Linked DNA regions of Homo sapiens: region 1 is linked to region 2. The links come from fine-mapping of genetic effects on gene expression. A gene starts in region 2. The other region holds a variant in brackets. All regions are shown on one strand. Distances are between the middles of the regions. Region 1 holds the start of MIR548T (microRNA 548t). Region 2 holds the start of SAP30 (Sin3A associated protein 30).

Evidence for each region. PIP is the estimated chance that this variant, and not a neighbour inherited with it, causes the effect. A credible set is the group of variants that fine-mapping cannot tell apart.
Region 1: its variant is the best candidate, but not a certain one, in a credible set for the expression of SAP30 in whole blood (TOPMed, PIP 0.51).

The regions. Positions count from the first base shown.
Region 1 is chr4:173,266,081-173,270,477 of GRCh38, forward strand. The region is part of intron 2 of GALNT7 (polypeptide N-acetylgalactosaminyltransferase 7); the gene reads left to right. It overlaps MIR548T (microRNA 548t), which reads left to right and starts at 2,080; the gene lies at 2,080-2,153. It overlaps LOC124900812 (a long non-coding RNA gene), which reads right to left. Exons shown (of 3, transcript XR_007058367.1): 2 at 1-4,397. The variant C/T (reference allele first, on the strand shown) is at 2,725.
Region 2 is chr4:173,368,642-173,373,038 of GRCh38, forward strand. It overlaps SAP30 (Sin3A associated protein 30), which reads left to right and starts at 2,313. Exons shown (of 4, transcript NM_003864.4): 1 at 2,313-2,856. The coding sequence starts at 2,542. SAP30-DT (SAP30 divergent transcript) reads right to left here and starts at 2,057. Exons shown (of 4, transcript NR_183973.1): 1 at 1,651-2,057; 2 at 793-969. RefSeq lists enhancers at 1,534-1,773, 2,857-3,420, 3,124-3,423 and silencers at 2,174-2,343, 2,624-3,003.

The sequences.
Region 1 (4,397 bases), 100 kb before region 2:
AACCCTGTCTCTACTACAAATACAAAAAAATTAGCTGGGCCTAGTGGCGTGCGGCCATGATCCCAGCTACTTAGGAGGCTGAGGCACAAGAATTGTTTGAACCCGAGAGGCGGACGTTGCAGTGAGCTGAGATAGCACCACTGTACTCCAGCCTGGGCAACAAAGCAAGACTCTGTCTCAAAAAGGAAAAAGAAAAAGAAAAGAAAAGAATTTTAGAACTGAAGGGGGCCAGAGGGGTTCCTTGGTACTGTGAGAGATCCCTCACTTTGTGGATAAGGAATCCCAAGTATAAACAGTATGTGATCATCCAGGATTAAATTAAGTGGCTGAGAAGAATGAATCCAGGTCTTCTAGGACCGACCTTTCACTATACCAGACAAAAGAGCACGAAAGTGTGTTGATCAGAGCAGTAGTTTTAATTGTAGTATTTTTGATACATTTGTGAAACATTTTATAGTAATAAAAATTTTTACTTAGGAGCAAAAGAAGTATGTTATCAATCCCAAGGTAACTCTTTTTAAATGTGGACATATAAAATTCCAATTATATGTAGAAGGGCCTCTGCTTAAATCTAAGTTGTAAGAAGTTATACTATTAATAAGAGAACAGATATAAAAATAATAAAATCCTGCCATTTTCGGCAACATGGATGAGCATGGGGGACATTATGTTAAAAATAAGCCAGGCACCGAAAGACAAGTATTGCATGTTCTCACTCACGTGGAAGCTAAAAAATTTGATCTCATGGAGGTAGAGAGTATAATGACGGCTACCTGAGGCTGGGAAGGGTGTGTGTGTGTGTGTGTGTGTGTGTGTGTGTGTGTGTGTGTGTGTGTGTGTGTGTGTGGAGGGCTGGGATGTGGGATAAAGAGGGGTTGGCTAATGGCTATAAACATACAGTTAGCTGGAAGGAATAAGTTCTAATGGTCAATAGGACAGCAGGTGACCATAGTTAACAACAATGTATTGTGTATTTCAAAAGGGCTAGAAAAGAATATTTGGGATGTTCCCAACACAAAGAAATGATAAATGTTTGAGGTGGTGCATATCCTAAATACCCTGCTTTGATCATTACCCATTATATGCATGTATCCATATATCACATGTATCCCATAAATAGGTACTATTATCATATATTAATTTTTAAAAGCCACCTTAGTATGGCCTAGAAGTAGAGGATCAGTGTTGAGGGTATGGGCAAAATTTACCATTGTACCATGCCTGTCACTTAGATCACCCTCCAGCCTGGCCCCTGAAACGCGTACCTGAATGCTAGGGAGATACACTGAAAGAGCATTCCATTAAAATGCCTGTCAAACTGAAGGATGGCAAATTTCTGTACTTGAGGGTTTGTGGACACCCATAGGCAGATTACCAGCCAGTGGCTTCTGCAGCGCCAGGAAACCATGCCTGGGCACAGACCAGCAAATGTCATCAGCAATGGCCATTCCTTAGAATAGGCACAGCAGGGGGACCAGCTTCACAGGACCAGGGGCCCCTTTGCAGCAGAGTCTTCACCTCAGCAAGCAGAGCTCACAGAAAATGAGGGGTGCTGCATGGTATCCGAGAGTGCCAAGTTCATAAATACACATGAGGTTCACTTTGGGAATCCCATACAGAGCTGAAAGAGTGATGAGCATGATATTGAGCATTTAGGGAGCTTTGGTTTCCTCTTCTAGCAATTGTGGATAATAATACTTGGCTTGTAAAGTTATTGTGGGTAACAAATGTGCTAAAGGACATAAAAGGCATATCACACATGAGCTCCACCGGTTGGAGGTCACAGTTGTTGGAGGCCACCTTCATCCCTTGTGTGGCATAGAGAAGCTTCAGAAGCTCTTTTTTCTGTATAGGCCTCTCATCATGCCAGGTGTGTGGTATTCAGCCTTATCTTTAAAATATGGTACCCTCTTCATTGTATTTCATCCTGCCGTCTTACTACAAAAGAGGAGGAGTCCTAAAGGAAGTTAGTAAATACAAAGAAGTTCTTAAGGTCAACCTAAGATAAAGAAATGCTTGCTTGTAAGTGCTGGGTGATTGAATCTATAATTTGCGTCAAGAGAAGTGAAGAAAAATGTTAGGGTGGTGCAAAAGTGATCGTGGTTTTTGCAATTTTTTAATGACAAAAACCACAATTACTTTTGCACCAACCTAACCTTGTTTTAGGCATGTATCTATTTAAAGACACTTTATTTTACCTATAACGTTGATGGGTTTACATTGAACTCAGGGCCAATAGCACTGTAACTCGCACCCAAACAAAGCTTGTCTCACGTGGATTTTCTGCACAGGACACAGCACAGCATCTTTGTGCTTAGGATACCAGGTAGCACACTGACATTATTCTCGGGAGGCTGTTTTAAACAGCAAAATTACCAACTAAAAGCACAAAAATGAGAAAATCTGTGGCACCAAACAAACTGCAAATAGGACACTTGTTTTCTCTCTCGTTTTTTTTTTTTTTTTTTTTTTTTTTTGAGATGGAGTCTCGCTCTGTAGCCCAGGCGTGGCGCCATCTTGGCTCACAGCAAGCTCTGCCTCCCAGGTTCACGCCATTCTCCTGCCTCAGCCTCCCGAGTAGCTGGGACTACAGGCGTCCACCACCACGCCCAGCTAATTTTTTTTTTTTTTTGTATTTTTAGTAGAGATGGGGTTTCACCGTGTTAGCCAGGATGGTCTCAATCTCCTGACCTCTTGATCCGCCCTTCTTGGCCTCCCAAAGTG[C/T]TGGGATTACAGGCGTGAGCCACCGCACCCGGACACTTGTTTACTCTATGAGCAGAAACAAGAAACAGAACATCCTCGTGTGCATGCCCATCAGGCATCTCCAATTGCAATCCACATTTGTGGACGTAGAATCCACAAATAATAAGGAGCCACTGAATTTTTGTATATTTAGTATGGGGCTCAGGTTAATCACAGAAATATTTACTATATAGTTAGTGGGCAAAATGCCCAGTACCCCATTATAATAAACCCAAATCTCAGTAACAGTGAAGATGTTTCTCAGAGGGGCATGGCTCCTCTGATGTTTGTCAGATAAGCATGTCTTATTATAGGGGCACTCAGACAACAGAGGCACAGAACAAAACAAAATATTTTTTGTCTGTTAATTTATTTCAAAAATGAAATCTGATAATGGCTTTTAGAAATGTGAAGACCAAAAAGCATCAAATTTTGTTTTTCCATTTAAGGAATAGAAATAAAGTGGCCGAGTTATTATTATATGTTCCGCCCATAATTCATCTTTCCTTGCTCCTTCCCACCCCTCCCCACTTTATCTTCCACCTCCTTTTATAGATACCTAACTGCTAAAATGGGCTTGGGAAGGCAGCTGGAATCATGCCAAGGTGTACCCAACAGAAGCTGCTGCAGTTAGTGACATGAGCTATGGAACACAGGAGGTCTTTTGCACTGATTGGAATATTTATTAGATTTAGTGCTGAAATAGTCTCTGCTGATAAGCAGACCTAATCTGAATTTCAAAGGTCCTTATGACCACGTAAATGTGATAGTATCATATCCTCAGGCCCCAAGTGCATCACCTTTCCTAAATGGTTGGATGCTGTATTGAATCTATTTAATATCCTGGTAACTAGCTTTGACTTTTTTCAGGAATACTTAATAATTTTAGATTTAATCTTCCCTCCTCCTCCTCCTCCTCAACAGAAGTAATTTAAATTCTTTCCAAGTAGTCATTGCACCTGTTTCTTACTTCAATCTTGGTCTCAAAGAAATATACAACAAACTCCGATAGACCACGGCCATAAAGTCCAATTTTATAATCATGCAGGAAAAGGAATGCTTCTTGAGGATCAAAAGTTGCAGTCATGATGCTAGGATGTTTCATATCCAGTAAAACTAGAGACACCCCACCTCATCAGCTGATTGTGGGAGAAGTCGTTTACAAAAGTCCTGTGAAGAAAGAACTAGATGATATAAATGTATGCATATTTCTAGAACCTGAAAAATATAAAAAGATAATCAAGTGTACTTGGACCCATAGCCACTGGTTTTAACCATTCTGCAGAAGTATAGCGCAATTATTATTGGCAATATGTGAAGATATGGATGATTTCATGGGGAAATCTTTGAAATTAAAGTGGGATAATTTGGAGGTACAGGGGAAATGTTTTTCCCTTTAAACTGTGGCAATAACCCTTGTAATTGCATGTGCTCTCCAGAATAAAGATATAGCAGATTGACATCAGCTTCAGAAAATGAGACATTAGGTACCTGAGGGATTCAGTCAAATTGCTCCTATGAAATCTTGAGTTTTGAAGATTGAAAAAAAAATGCTTGTTTTTGTGACAAGTGTTTTGGGGAATATTTTAGGGGATAATTGATGTTCTGCATTCCAATACCTTAGGTAATGAGGAAGCTGTGGAAACAGCCTCCTT
Region 2 (4,397 bases):
CAATCTCAGGTCACTGCAACCTCTGCCTCCTGGGTTCAAGCAATTCTCCTCCCTCAGCCTCCCAAGTAGCTGGAACCCCAGGCTTGTGTCACCATGCCTGCCTAATTTTTGTATTTTTAATAGAGACGGAGTTTCACCATGTTGGCCAGGCTGGTCTCGAACTCCTGACTTCAGATGATCCACCCTCCTCGGCCTCCCAAAGTGCTGGGATTACAGGCGTGAGCCACCACGCCCTACTGTGTTGTAATACTTTAAGCCAGTGTTATCTAATGCAACAGGTACAATTTATTGTAATATTTTGTTTAACCCATTACATCCAAAACATTTAAACATATATAAAAATTTTTAATGTGCACTTCAATATTCTTTTTGAAAATTTCTTGTAGTAAGTCCAGAAATAAAAAAAAAGTCCAGCTGATATATACTTACAGCACATCTCAATTCATATGCTAAAGTTAGAGTTCATAAAATTTAAGTTGGAAAAACAGATTCATATATCTGAGTTGTTGCAAACACACTTAAAAGTATTCCAACAATTGAATCGAGCATCAGGTTTTTGGTTTTTGTTTAATTCAAATTCAATTAACGATTCAGTTTTTCCGTCTCAACCACATTTCAAGTGCTGAGTAGCCACATATGGCTAGAGGACAGCCTACTGGACAGCACAGCTTAAGGAGGTACACAATGTACTTATCAGTCATCATCTTTCTTTTTCCTACTGAATTTACGTAATATTTAAATTGTTTTTCTTTGTCATATCCTAGAACTCAAACGCACAGATACAATGGATACCTTTGATTTTCTGCGTCGATGGCATTTTGCATTTAAAAAGATCATCTGGGTGGGGTGGCGCGCGTCTGTAATCCCAGCTACTCGGGAGGCTGAGGCAGGAGAATCGCTTGAACTCGAGAGGCGGAGGTTGCAGGATCGCGCCACTGCACTGCACTCCATCCTGGGCGACAGAGCAAACTGTCTCAAAAGAAAAAAAAATCATTTATCACTAAATTTACTCACCAAAAGAACTTGCAAAAAAAAAACCCAAAACCCTACTGCCTAAAATATATTTTAAAACGTATTTGTGTTTAAGCAGCATATATCTTTTGATAAATAATGACGCATGGTAGCTAACTAGTAAAGATGCAGCTTTCATATTAGCCACGCCCATCCCTCTCTCCGCCCTCCACAAGCACGTCCCCGCAAGCGCGCAGGAACATACACGCGTACGCGCGCACACACACGTACACACGCGCGCGCCCGCGAACACATACATACAAGCAGGCGCGCCCAAACGCCGGCAGCACACAGGCGCGCACGCGCTTTTCAGGACTCAGGAAATGCGCTTTCTGCTCCCCGCGCCCGGTAGAGCTAATGCAGGGAAGTTTCTGGGAACATTCGACCAGCGTTTGTATTGGTGAGGTTCCAAGTTTCCTTTAAAATGATATGACTCCGCCCTTCTCCAAAACCGTTTGAGGAGAAATGGAAAAGGTTGGGCGTGGAGGTGAAAAGGAGCCCTGTTGTCAACTGGTCCGTACTCCACCTCAGGAGGCGGCCAACTTGGTGCGCCCAAGAATAAAAACATTTCCCTTGTAAGAACATGCAAGTGTTTAGAAACGCCCCCCCACCCCCCCGCAAGGCGTTTGTGAGGGGGACCTGTCACAGTTGAGAAGTCAGGATGGGCGTTTTCCTCCCAGGAGGTGCCCTATTAATTTGCGGCCTCGATAGTTGGTCAAGCCGGGATGTTAGCTGCGGAACCTCCAGGACCGAAGAGCGCCAATTCTCCTGAGTTCTCCTTGGTTTGGGTTTCCCACAAAAGAGTGGTCACACCAAAAACTCTGTCTCCACAAATGCGAAACGGGCTCGAAACTTTTTTTTCCCCACACGATCACTTCCCACACCACTCCCATCCCTTTATGTTTCGCCTCAGGAGTCGAGGAACTTCTCTGAAAACCAATTCTACGATATTCCAGCAGCTAAACACAGCCCGAATTCCCTAGAAACAGAGAGAGCGAGAGAAAACACTGTAAACCCCAATCACACGCTCCTGTTTTCCCGGTACTGAAAAAAAAAAAAAAAAAAAAAAGTGGGTCCGTGGCCGCGCTATGCATGCTAGGATTAGTAGTTCCTCCGTCCCTCATGGCGCGGGGTCAGGGCGGAGCTCAGGTTGACTCTGCAGCAGAGAACTACAATTCCCATGGGGCCGCGCGGCAGAAAGAAAGGGGCGGGACGGGAGGGGGCGCGTCGCGCTTGCGCAGGTCCCGGGGCCGGAGGGAGGCGGAGGCGTAGCGGTCCAACTGCTGAAGTCCCCATGTGACAGTGAGCGGGGTCCCCGCTCCAGGAGACGCTCGAGTCTGCGTCCCGGCCCTCAGCACTGTCCACTGTTTCGGTGCCAGCAGAGACCAGCAGGCCCGGGACAGTTGGTGTTTGGCCGTGCCGCTGTCTAACTTGGTGTGCAGAGTGAATTGCCGCTGCCGGAGCGGAGAGAGGCGGAGCGGCCAGGAGAGAGGGGATTTCTGTCAGCGCCGGCCTCGGGAGCTCGGAGACATGAACGGCTTCACGCCTGACGAGATGAGCCGCGGCGGGGATGCGGCCGCCGCAGTGGCCGCAGTGGTCGCTGCCGCGGCCGCCGCCGCCTCGGCGGGGAACGGGACCGGCGCGGGCACCGGGGCTGAGGTGCCGGGCGCGGGGGCGGTCTCAGCGGCTGGGCCCCCGGGGGCGGCCGGGCCGGGCCCCGGGCAACTGTGCTGCCTGCGGGAGGATGGTGAGCGGTGCGGCCGGGCGGCAGGCAACGCCAGCTTCAGCAAGAGGATCCAGAAGAGCATCTCCCAGAAGAAGGTGAAGATCGAGCTGGATAAGAGCGTAAGTAAACCGCGGGACCGCCCTGCCCTCCCGCCCCTCGGTGGGGCCCCAGGAGCCGGGCAAAGGCACGGGTTGTCGGCGGGGTCCCCCAGACAACCGCACTGGCTGCAGTGCGGTCTCGTGGAGTCTGTGTTTGGAAGCAAATAACAAAGTCGCTGCAACTCCTACCGCCACCCCAACACACACACCACACACAGGCTGTCGTTCCCCTCTTCTTTCCCACCCTGGCCCCCAACCTCCCGCTGCCTGCGTCTCTCCCGCGCAGTCTTCCCTCTTCCTTCTCCTCTGCGACCGGGACACGAAACAAAGGGGACCGGCGCACTGAGGGCCCAGAGTAGTTTTCTTGCAGCCCGGCAGCTCTTCTGGAATGGAGGCGCCTTTGTTTTGCTGCCCAAGCTGGTGTTTGGCCCCAGGCGGTACTAAATCCCGTCGTCTAGGAGAAAGCGGAGGACCTTCACGAACAAGGAAGATCCTGTTCTTTTCTGTGTTCCGTCTCCTCCGGAGCGGAGTGAGAGGGAAGCCGAGCTCACCCGCCGCCTGGCAGTGAGCCGGGGTTGTAAACGGCGTTTGCGCTGTCAGCTCCGAGGGCAGCTACTCCGATGGTGGGGAGCACGTAGCCTCTGCGGTTTTGCCATCCCCTTGGCAGCCATCAGGATTTTTTGCACGTCTTTTCGTTTGACCATCTATGAGGTTTTTAGAAACAGCCGTTGCTACTTTTGGGAGATCTGGCTAGCGGTAAATGAATAACATGGTATCGAGAACCTACCACAAGTCCTGCATATTTTTATCTTGCGCTTGGCTTAGAAGTAAATGTAAAAGCCTGTTAGCTCAGTCCGTGTTTGTTTCAAATGCTAGTCTACAGCTCGCAGGAGTATATGTAATTAAAGTTTTTGAAAAGTTTATTTGTGACACTTTTTGCCCGTTTAAACAGTTTTCAGTGTTATCCATGAGAAACTCTTCAGGTGAACTTGCATAATTTCAGATTGTTTTGGAAAAATGTGTTATAGATAAATACATTGATTTAATATTCAGAAAAATGTATAACTGAAATTTAAATATAGTTTTGAAGTCGATGGCTCATTTGTGAAAACGAATGGTTTTGTATCTGGACTATAATTTGGGTATTCAGTTAGAAAGACTGGAAAGCATACATTATATTACTAAAATATGCTGTTCTTTTAAGTAGAGAAAGTACTGTCAAGTAGCAAAACTGTGAGCAACATCATCTTTCCCCTCATCAGTTAAAAATTCAACATGAACTAATTCAGGTCATCCTTACTGCTATCTGTTTGTTTATTTATTTAAGACAAAGTCTCACTCTGTTGCCCAGGCTGGAGTGCAGTGGCGCGATCTCGGCTCACTGCAACCTCCAACCACCAGGTTCAAGTGATTCTCCTGCCATAGCCTCCTGAGTAGCTGGGATTACAGGCTACTGCCACCATGCCCGCCTAATTTTTTGTATTTTTAGTAGAGACGGGATTTCACTATGTTGGCCAGGCTTGTGTGGAACTCCTGAGCTCAAGTGATCCACCCGCCTTGGC